3 linked regions of the Homo sapiens genome follow. The protein of the gene in region 3 purifies or fractionates together with the protein of the main gene of each other region. This does not show direct contact. Each region holds a gene or a part of one and is shown on either strand. Other genes may lie near its edges.

What was found.
Region 1: the proteins of EIF2AK1 (region 3) and AP3B1 purify together in Homo sapiens (affinity purification with mass spectrometry, with the first as the bait; one large-scale study listed by BioGRID). This does not show direct contact.
Region 2: the proteins of EIF2AK1 (region 3) and NAF1 purify together in Homo sapiens (affinity purification with mass spectrometry, with the first as the bait; one large-scale study listed by BioGRID). This does not show direct contact.

The regions. Positions count from the first base shown.
Region 1 is NC_000005.10:78,284,656-78,288,310, forward strand, and holds part of AP3B1 (AP-3 complex subunit beta-1), read right to left. Parts: intron 1-3,655. UniProt on the Homo sapiens protein: Subunit of non-clathrin- and clathrin-associated adaptor protein complex 3 (AP-3) that plays a role in protein sorting in the late-Golgi/trans-Golgi network (TGN) and/or endosomes.
Region 2 is NC_000004.12:163,156,852-163,160,506, forward strand, and holds part of NAF1 (H/ACA ribonucleoprotein complex non-core subunit NAF1), read right to left. Parts: intron 1,477-3,655; exon of another isoform or gene 1,374-1,476; intron 1-1,373. UniProt on the Homo sapiens protein: RNA-binding protein required for the maturation of box H/ACA snoRNPs complex and ribosome biogenesis.
Region 3 is NC_000007.14:6,052,639-6,056,293, forward strand, and holds part of EIF2AK1 (eukaryotic translation initiation factor 2-alpha kinase 1), read right to left. Parts: intron 2,067-3,655; coding exon 1,908-2,066; intron 1-1,907. UniProt on the Homo sapiens protein: Metabolic-stress sensing protein kinase that phosphorylates the alpha subunit of eukaryotic translation initiation factor 2 (EIF2S1/eIF-2-alpha) in response to various stress conditions.

The sequences.
Region 1 (3,655 bases), on a different chromosome or scaffold from region 3:
AAAAGAAAAAAGGCTAAAAGATATATACTACATTAACCGATTTCTTCTGGATATTGAAATTAGGGTTGTTATTTTTCAGCTAACCTGTATCTGTAAGTTTTCTAGAAGAAAAAGGGGATATCAGCAATTCTCCAGCAATTTTCCTTCTCTCTAATGCATCATCTATTTTCTCTCCTCTACATCAGTTGGTTCCATCAGCAAACAAGATAATACAGTTTCTCCTACCTTAAGGAAAAATTCCTTGACATAACATTCCTCTCCAAGTGCTGCTCCATTTCTCTGCTCTTCTATACTTAAAAATATACTAATGGCCAGGCGCGGTGGCCCACGCCTGTAAATCCCAGCATTTTGGGAGGCCGAGGTGGGCAGATCATGAGGTCAGGAGATGGAGACCATCCCGGCTAACACGGTGAAACCCCGTCTCTACTAAAAATACAAAAAAAATTAGCTGGGCGTGGTGGAGGGCGCCTGTAGTCCCAGCTACTCGGGAGGCTGAGGCAGGAGAATGGCGTGAACCCGGGAGGCGGAGCTTGCAGTGAGTCGAGATCACGCCACTGCACTCCAGCCTGGGCGACAGAGCAAGACTCTGTCTCAAAAAAAAAAAAAAATACTAACCACAATTCTTCTTCTTCCTTCTCTCTTGAGCCCACTCATGAGGCTTTCAGCCCCACCAGTGCACCTAAACTGCTTGTCACGGTCACCAAAGTCCACCCAGTGACAAATCCAAAACTCCCTTCTCAGTAATCATCTTACTTGACCTATTTGTATTATTTGACACAATTACTCCAGGAATGTCCCAGGACTGACTGACTCTGACCTTTTTCTACACTCACTTCCTCAGTGTCTCATCCAATCCCATGATACCTGATGACTCCCAAATTTATACTTCTAGCCTGACTCCTCCTCTAAGCTCCACACTCTGATATCCAACTGCCTATTTAGTATCTCCACATGGATGCCTAATCGCATCTCAAACTTAACATGCACAAGCTCTTGGTCCCTTTCCCCCTTTAAAAAAAAATTCCTCTTTGCACAATATTCTTCATTTTAGTTGACAGCTATTCCAAACTTCGAGCTGTGTAGGCAAAAAACTTTGTATCCACCCTTGATATCTTTTCTCCCACACACATATCACATCCAAACTATCAGCAAATCTCATTGGCTCTACCTTTCAAATATATCCATAACTCACCCACTTCTCTCCACTACCACCAATCGGATCACCTTCTCTTGCCTGAATTACTGTAATAGTCTCCTTGCTGGTCCTTGCCTCAAATCTGCAGTCCACTCCTAGTTCAAGAGGCAAAATGTCCCTTTAAAGGGTAAACAATCATTTCACCCCTCTGCTCAAAACTCTCCAAATGGCATCCCTTCTCACTCAGAGTAAAATCAAAGACCTTAACAATGATTTTACAAGGCCCTACACAATCAGGTCTCCGCCTTCCACTCTGCCCCTTATCTCTCTGCCCTCATATTTTACTAATTAATTTCCCCCACATCCTTCTTGACCACATTCTCAACCTAGGCTTTAAAAACTTGCAGAAAACCCATTCCAAGAATAAAGTTGGGTGATGCCTAGCTCTGCCAACCTATGATTTTGGAACCACCCTACTATGGTTTCAATGTGTCCTCTCCAAAATTCAGATGTTCAAACTTAATGGCCAATATGATAGCATTAAGAGGTGGGGCCTTTAAGATTTAGTCATGAGGGCTCCTCCCTTCATGAATGAGATTAAGGCCCTTGCAAAAGAGGCTTCACAGTCTTCCATTCTCTTGCCCTTCCACCTTCTGCCCAGTAAGGACACAGCATTACTCCCCTCCAGAGGATGCGGCAACAACAGACCATCTTAGAAGCAAAGAGCAGCCCTCACCAGGAAACTAAACCTGCCTGTGACTCAATCTTGGACTTCCTGGCCTCCAAAAATGTGAGAAATAAAATTATATTCTTTAGAAATTACCCAGTCTCAGGTTTTTTGTTATAGCAGCATAAAACAAACTGAGACAGGGCCTTATTCATTCTTCTCTCATTTGTCCAGCTACCATGCCAACTCACTCAGCTGAATTAAAGACAGTGGACTTCTAATTAGGCTGGTTCCTATCAGCAATATAAATAATCAGTCCATCAATAAACAGATATTGGCTATAAACTGTTCACTTTTGTAGATCTATTAAGTCTTTCCAGCTGATAGGCTAAATAAGCCTTCTCTAAATACACGAACCAACGTTATTCATAATAATATGAAATAGAGGAAAATCATTTCCTTCTTGATTATTCTACTTTAAGCTCTTCATTTTAAATTTTGAATTTGGACTGCAGGCAATTTGTTTTTGTCAGTAGTTCATTTATATACACAAGTGAAATACTGTCAAATTATTTCACTGTAATACATTTGTCATTCTATGAGCATTTATAACTTTTCATGCAGCAAAAAAGAACATTTCAACCAACCATCTGTCTGCCTTTTTCATGTGCTTTAATCATTCAGCTCTGGTAATGTTGCTCCAAATACTAAATTTTTTTTAAATAACATAAAATCTCACATCTTATGATTTAATGGTAAGGCTTGAAATTTAATTTTCAGATTTTTCTCCTCAAATTTTACCAGATCAGTGATTTTAAAAATAACATATCCTACTGTCAAGAAAGAATATTTTCTTGAATATTTATTAAGACAAAATGTAGAAGTCAGAACCAACTCTCCTTCAAGGAGATATGCAAGCAAAGCAAAATAAGATAAAAGGTTTTATAATCTGTTGGAAAGTAAGACTCTGTTTACAGGCAGTATTTCATCAAATTTCTATTCAATGTAGTAAAATCTTATTTAATTTGAAATATATTTCAAGAATTAAATCATAAATGGAACCCTACTGCACCACTGAAATGACAATCCTTAATTTGAATAGTTGGCCCTTTGTAAAACTTACGATCTTATTTTTATGAAGACAAAAACAACTAGTTCAGCTGCTAGGAATGCACTGCAGATGCTAGTATACAGTTTCTTCTTTTATTTTTAGTCACCTTGGAACAAATGCTGAAATTTAGTGAAAAATCAATAAAATACTAAAATTTCCTAATAACTTAATGTACCCCTTGTAAAAAAAAAAAAAAAAAAGTAGGATCCAGTTTACATATGTAGCAAGCAAATATGTTAACAGCTCTAGTACCAGATCTAATGACCATAAATTTCAATTAGCTAAACATAATAAACAAGACAGATCAGTTATCAAACCTGGAATTATTAGAACACAAGAGATTTAAATCTTCATAACTAAAGATGATCAGATGTATAACAGTATGCTGACAAAATCATGACTGAAGCATATTTTCATAGCAGCAACCCTGAACTCCTGAGCACAAGAGAAAGGAATTCACAATGAGGAAGGAGCCCGTGCCTCTTCATGTCATGCTTATGACTCAGGGCACCAACACTTCAACGTCTCAAACTAAAATGTCCTTAACATTTCAAAATTCCAGCATTTCCATTTTCTTCAGTAAATCACTGTTTACACAAACAAAGGCTTATAACAAATAATTTTCAATAGGTATGCCACACTGAAAAGTTGAATTACACAATTTAACACTAATTGTATACTTGAATTACTGACGGTTAGTTCACATTAGCCTAATCTCTCCAAATAAAGTCTGAGTTTCTTA
Region 2 (3,655 bases), on a different chromosome or scaffold from region 3:
AGCCTGTTCTGGATGTACATTATCTGCCATTAGAAATAACTATTTTATCATACAAATGAAATTTTTGTAAATGTTTACTAACAAAAAATCAAAGAACAGCAAAAAGTTTTTCTGGACTCATTTATTCAATACTTCTACACATAACAAAGAGTAGGAAAGGAAAGGAAGAAAACTATTTCATTCACATCATTAGCAAATGAAAAGCTTGCATGGAAATAAACATCCCCAAACACCACAGCATTTCGCAAATGAACTACTAAAATTCAACATACTAAAGAAGCTCCACCATTTATTTCCCACACACTACACAGTTCCAAGTCAAAAGCTTTATTGAGAGGCAATATAATCCAAGCAAATACAATTTTAAAAAGCTTACATTAGATGATACATTCATCCTTCACTTTGAGAAAATATGCTACATGATTATTCAGAAACCAAATAATGAGAAAGTCCAAACGACCAGATTCCAACGTTGCTATGCAGGTCTCCACAAATACTAAAAACACAGCAGTTTGGAATGTATCTATTACCAGTTCAGATCTGCTCCTCCCCACTAATATGACTTCAGACAAGTCTCTTTCTTTCTGGTTTCATTTTTCTTACCTACGAATAGTAAGGAAACTGAGCACAAGTTCTAAACAGTTACACAAATGGCTAACGACAATTTAAATGTCCAACTGCATGTAATCAAAAAGACAACACATTAATACAGAAATTATATACTAGATCCCAATAAAAAAATTACTGTGCTTCTGTGATAACAGATACTCGTAACGATGGCATTAAAGAAATGCAAGATCCTAACCACACTTCTGGAATATCCATGAAAGAGCAATTATTGTCTGTTTTGTAAGATTATTATATTTTAATTTTCTAACATCTGTATGGTCTACAAGGTTATTCAGTTAAGCAAAATATTCAAAAGAGTACCACATAACATTAAAAATCCATCCTATTAAAAATGAGGTTATAGACATACCAGTCAAAAAATGGGTGCCTAAAACTTTCAATGCAAAAATGGAAGAAGCTAATATGTCAAAAGTGGCCCTCTGAAAAGGTAACATTTATAATTTACAACACTGTTGACTTTTCAAGCATTTGTGAAGGCTTATTGAGCAAAAAAGAGTATCAGTAAATTGATGACTTTCTAAAGTAAAATTATATAAAGAACTTTCAGTAGGATTTTCACTCACAAATATGGAAAAAGGACAACAGAGGTTGGTGGGAGAAGGAATCAAACATTCCAAATGAAAACTAAACCTTTTTGGTGTCAGTTTGGGGAGAATTGAGAAAAGTGAGGAAGGTGGGATGAAATTATCTAACCACTTTTCTCATATTACCCAACACAGGACATGCACGTGGCAGCCAATTACCTGATGCTATTAGGTGAGCCTTCACTTTTCAGATATGGTTGGAAAGTAGGATCCAATCCCTGGAGTACTGAGAGCCATGACTGAATTTTTTTTTTCTCTATAGCTGGTAAAACATATTGGAAAAAGAATGGATTAGGTCTGTACACTTTGTGTCAACTATGACCATACTTAACATGTATTCTAATTCATTAACTTCTTCAGGGGAAGTAATTTTACAAGTTTCCATGAAACTCAGCTATTTATCACCAGTAAGCATTAGTCCCCTCATTAATTACCCTATTGTGTATGACACTAAACTTAAGACTCAGACAAGTCAATTAAAAAATGAGGGTCAACATTTCTTTGAAGTGTCTTGATATTTTTCTTTTTTAAATGAATACATTATTATCCTGTTTTTCTCTAAAATTACTGTTAAGAGAAACAAAGTTCATAATACTTTCAAAATTTAATTTGCTTAAATATAAAACTATAGTCCATCTCAATAAGAAACCTCCAACAATGAATATAACTTTAAGCCTATCTTTCATGTTAATTGAGTGCATATTTCATCAACTTTAAGACACTGATTTTATATCACTAAGATAAAAAGACTGCCAAATAATTGTAAAATGCCACAGAGTATTAGCCTAAATTTTTCAGAAATCCTTATTACCTCCCCTTCCACTCAATCCTATCACTTCTTATGTGCAGTACACCATTCATCTGACATTCAACCATTAACTCTCTGGTGCTACTTTGCTTTCAGCTAAAGTGTATATGCTCATTCTCTAGTTCCATTGCTCTTTAACAGATATTTGTCTTTATCTTCTAAAGCAATCAGCAGAATTCACTTATTAGAAACTACTGAGGAATGGGGGAATCTAAACAATTGAATGTTTCTGTGTAATAATAATTATATATGTATATACACAGGACATAAATGGATACTCTACTGAATAAAACAGTATTTATTTCATGTTTATGAAATCATTCATGCCTCATGTAAGCTTTATTGAAATATTCTGTAAGATATAAAACTTTAATTTAAAAAACCCTGAGTATTAATTATTTTTGAAGAACACTAGTGAATATTAATGAAAAATGATCTTAAGTATACAAACCATTGCTTAAATAACAAGCACTTTGGGAAGAATGTTAATAAGTGCTATCAAAGTGTATTCTAAAATAGAATTTAATAGTTCCAAATATACATATAGTAATAAAAACCTAAGTTAAAAGAGGCCTGCATTCAGGACAAAATTTATAAACCAACTTATGCCTAGAAAACAATATATTCAATTGATAATTACTAAGTGTAGACCAAGATGCAATACAATTTCATATATGATGGGAGATCAAACAGGCATGAAATATTCTACTGCAACTTCCAACCACTTGAGTGGTCCAGATATTTCCATACATTCACGTTAGGACATTTTAGAATGTGTCCACACTGCCACAATCAGGAGAATAGAGTGTACTCAACCTAACTACCAAACGTACTTATTTTATAAAATAAGCAGTCACCAAAGTATGACAGCTAAATTTCCCCCAAAATTGCCAATAAGCATTAATTTTTTTCTTGGTCATGCTACATTATATGCCTAAAGACACATTATTATCCCTACTGAAGTATTATCCATTTCTTATCTCCATAAACATTGTGCTAATAATTTTTAAATGTTATGTGAAGCCTTTCAGGTTTTCAGAAAACAATGGGCACTAATTTATAAAACTCATTTCTGATTAAGACTTTAAAAATTATAATCCCAAATATTTTTATGACCCTACATTTTTAATTACACTTGATACATTTGAATGAAGAGTTCAGAGCATCAACTGCTGATAAAATTGTTTAAAAAGAATCTCAATTTTCCAATTCATCAAAACACTAAATACATCCTATGTGGCTCAACGTAGTTCCAAAGCTGTAATATGTATGCTGCTTACAGTGACTGTGTAGGTTATATATAAACCTTCTGAGCATTAAAAAAGAATTTATGTTTAAAAGAATAATTTTATCTAGTTAAACTTATTAATTGTGACATTATGAAGAGAGCCACTTAAGACTCTCCTTTTTCATTGCCACTATAGCTCGCTAATTCCTCTTTTATTCTCTTCCCCCTTAACGTACCCTCACATTAAAAAACAAAAACAAAAACAAAAACAAAAAACTGGGTTATAACCACATCTTGGGATGGCAAGATTTGGTTATAACCTAATTTTAAAAATTATATCTTTCTAAGGTTTAAGAACAATCATAAAGTTATTTCACTGTAGTTCTCATCTACCTAAAGATCTGC
Region 3 (3,655 bases):
TTTTTTTTTTTTTCTCTAGAGGCAGAGTCTTACTATGTCACCCAGACTGGAGCACACTGGTTACTCACAGGAGTGATCAAAGCACACTGAAGGCCGAGGCGGGTGGATCACCAGGTCAGGAGTTCGAGACCAGCCTGAACAACATGGTGAAACCCCGTCTCTATTAAAAATACAAAAATTACCCGGGCATGGTGGCACGTGCCTACCCCAGCTACTCGGGAGGGTGAGGCAGGAGAATCACTTGAACCCGGGGGGCGGAGATTGCAGTGAGCGGAAATCGCGCCAATGCACTCCAGCCTGGGCAACAGAGTGAGACTCCATCTCGAGAAAAAAAAAAATTGTGAGCATTATCATAGTATAGATGCAAAAGAACTATATTTCATTTATTCAATTTTATGCAATTATGGGATCCACAGTTATATTTGTAAGGAATTACTCAAAGAAAAATGTAAGCTGAATTGAAGTAGGGAAATCATTAATATTTATTTCACTCCAATTTTTGTATACCAGACGCTTTCCAGACTCACAGCATTAAACAACATATTTTTATTTTGTATTTTTAATTTTTGTGAGTATATGGTAGATGTATATATTTATGGGGGTACATGAGATATTTTGATACAGACATGTGATGTGTAATAATCACATCAGGATAAATGGGGTATCCATCATCTAAAGCATTTATCCCTTCTTTGTGTTACAAACAATCCAATTATATTCTTTTCGTTATTTTTATTTTGTTGAGACTGAGTCTTGCTCTGTCGCCAGGCTGGTGTGCAATGGCGCGATCTCAGCTCACTGCAACCTCCGCCTCCCAGGTTCAAATGATTTTCCAGCCTCAGCCTCCCAAATTACAGCTGGGATTACAGGTGCCCGCCACCATGCCCAGCTAATTTTTGTATTTTTAGTAGAGACAGGGTTTCACCATGTTAGCCAGGATGGTCTCGATCTCTTGACCTCATGATCCACCTGCCTCAGTCTCCCAAAGTGCTGGGATTACAGGCGTGAGCCACCGCGCCCAGCCCATTCTTTTTTTTTTTTTTTTTGAGATGGACTTTAGCTCTTGTTGCCCAGGCTGGAGTGCAGTGGCGTGATCTCGGCTCACTGCAACCTCCGCCACCCGGGTTCAAGCAATTCTCCTACCTCAGCCTCCCAAGTAGCTGAGATTACAGCCATGTGCCATTACGCCTGGGTAGTTTTGCATTTTTTTTTTAATAGAGATGGGATTTCACCATGTTGGTCAGGCTGGTCTCAAACTCCTGACCTCAAGTGATTCACCCACCTTGGCCTCCCAAAGTGCTGGGATTACAGGCATGAGCCACTGCACCTGGCCATCTTTTTTATTATTTTTTAAATGTACAATAAATTATTGTTGACTGTAGTCACTCTGCTGTGCTATCAAATACTAGATCCAATTTATTCTAACTATATTTTTGTACCCATTAACCATCCTCCACTATCCTCCCAGCCTCTGGGAACCATCATTCTACTCTATCTCCATTAGTTCAATTGTTTTAATTTTTACCTCCCATGAATAAGTGAGAACAGCAACACAGTATTTTTACAAGCTTTATTTATTTATTTTTGAGACAGTCTCACTCTTTCACCCAGGCTGGAGTGCAGTGGCGCTATCTCGGCTCACTGCAACCTCCACCTCCCCAGTTCAACTGATTCTCCGCCTCAGCCTCCCGAGTAGCTGGGGTTACAGGTGCCTGCCACAACACCCGGCTAATTTCCATATTTTGAGTAAAGAGGGGGTTTCGTCATGTTAGCCAAACCGATCTCGATCTCCGGACCTCGGGTGATCCGCCCACCTCAGCCTCCCAAAGTGCTGGGATTACAGGCATGAACCACGGAGCCCAGCCTTTACAAGCTTTATTTAGCAAGATTCATTTATTCTTACTTACGCTTAAACACCTGTCTTGAACGAAGTGGGTTTGGTTCATGCACGTGGCTCAAGTGCTCCAGCAAAGAAACCAGCAAGAGTTGGTTTGCAACTGCAAAAGGGAAGGTTGGCTGTTGTAGGGGTTCTTTTAACACCTGGATTTCTGCTGGAACATCAGATTCTAAAAATTAAAAAGGAAAATATTTTTAAATTAATGGTAAACCTGTCTCATAATGACAAAACCGTATATTCTAATTAATGAAACATGAAATATTTAAATGTAAGCAGATAAAAACCAAAAGAATAGTTATGCTGAGTTGGGTTAATCAAGAAAGGCTTTCTGGAAGTGAATTTGGAGCTGAATCCTGGAAGCTGGAGGATCAGCAGAAAGATGCCGTGAGACAGAGGAGAAACAGTTTTCTGATGTGTCCAATAGTACAAATAAATCAATACGCAAGGAAGTGGGACTAGGATGGCTTCCTTCCTTTGAGAAGACAGCCAAGACCCAGGCATAAAGAAAGAAGTTAGGCAGAGGATGGCCGGGCGCGGTTGTTCATGCCTGTAATCCCAGCACTTTGGGAGGCTGAGGCCAGTGGATCACCTGAGGTCAGGAGTTTGAGACCAGCCTGACCAACATGGAGCAACACCATCTCTACTAAAAATACAAAATTAGCCGGGCAGTGGTGGCAGGCGCCTGTAATCCCAGCTACTCAGGAGGCTGAGGCAGGAAAATAGCTTGAACCTGGGAGGCAGAAGTTGCGGTGAGCCGAGATCAACCATTGCATTCCAGCCTTGGCAACAAGAGCGAAACTCCGTCTCAAAAAAAAAAAAAAAAAAAAAGAAGTTGGGCAGATGACAGAGGGAAAGATAGGAAAAATGGAAACTTTTCTCGATGAGCGTGTGCTACTTATCTACATGTACAATCTCCTTCAATGCTCAAAAAATAATATAAGGTAAGTGTTCATCCTCATTTTACAGATGAAAACACTGATCTCAGAGAGGCTGAGGAACCAGTGAACAAGGCAGATCAGACTGACTCCCGAACCCCATCCTCTTTGCACTGTATGAGACCATGCAGACAGACGAGTTGGCACTAAGGCTGAAGGTCGTTAAGTTCTCACTTACTGTTTATTTAAGACATGACTAAACAGGTAAAAAAAAAAAAAAAAAAACCTAGCTGGGCACAGTGGCTCATGCCTGTAATCCCAGCACTTTGAGAGGCCGAGGCAGGCAGATCACCTAAGGTCAGGAGTTCGAGACCAGCCTGGCCAACATGGAGAAACCCTGTCTCTACGAAAAAACAAAATTAGCCAGGCGTGGTGGCGCATGCCTGTAATCAATCCTAGCCACTCAGGAGGCTGAGGCAGGAGAATCCCTTAAACCCAGGAGGCAGAGGTTGAGATGAGCTGAGATCGTGCCATTGCACTCCAGCCTGGGCAACAAAGTGAAACTCTGTCTCAAAAAAAAAAAAAAAAAAAAAAAAAACTAGCTGGGTGTGGTGGCTCACATCTGTAATTCCAGCACTTAGAGAGGCCGAGGCAAGCAGATCACCTGAGGTCAGGAGCTCAGGACCAGCCTGGCCAACACGGTGAAACACCGTCTCTACTAAAAATACAAAAATTAGGTGAGCGTGGTGGTGTGCACCTGTGATCCCAGCTACTCAGGAGGCTGAGGCAGGAGAATTGCTTGAACCCAGGAGGTGGAGGTTGCAGTGAGCCGAGATCCAGCCATTGCACTCCAGCCCGGGCAACGGTGTGAGACTCAGTCTCA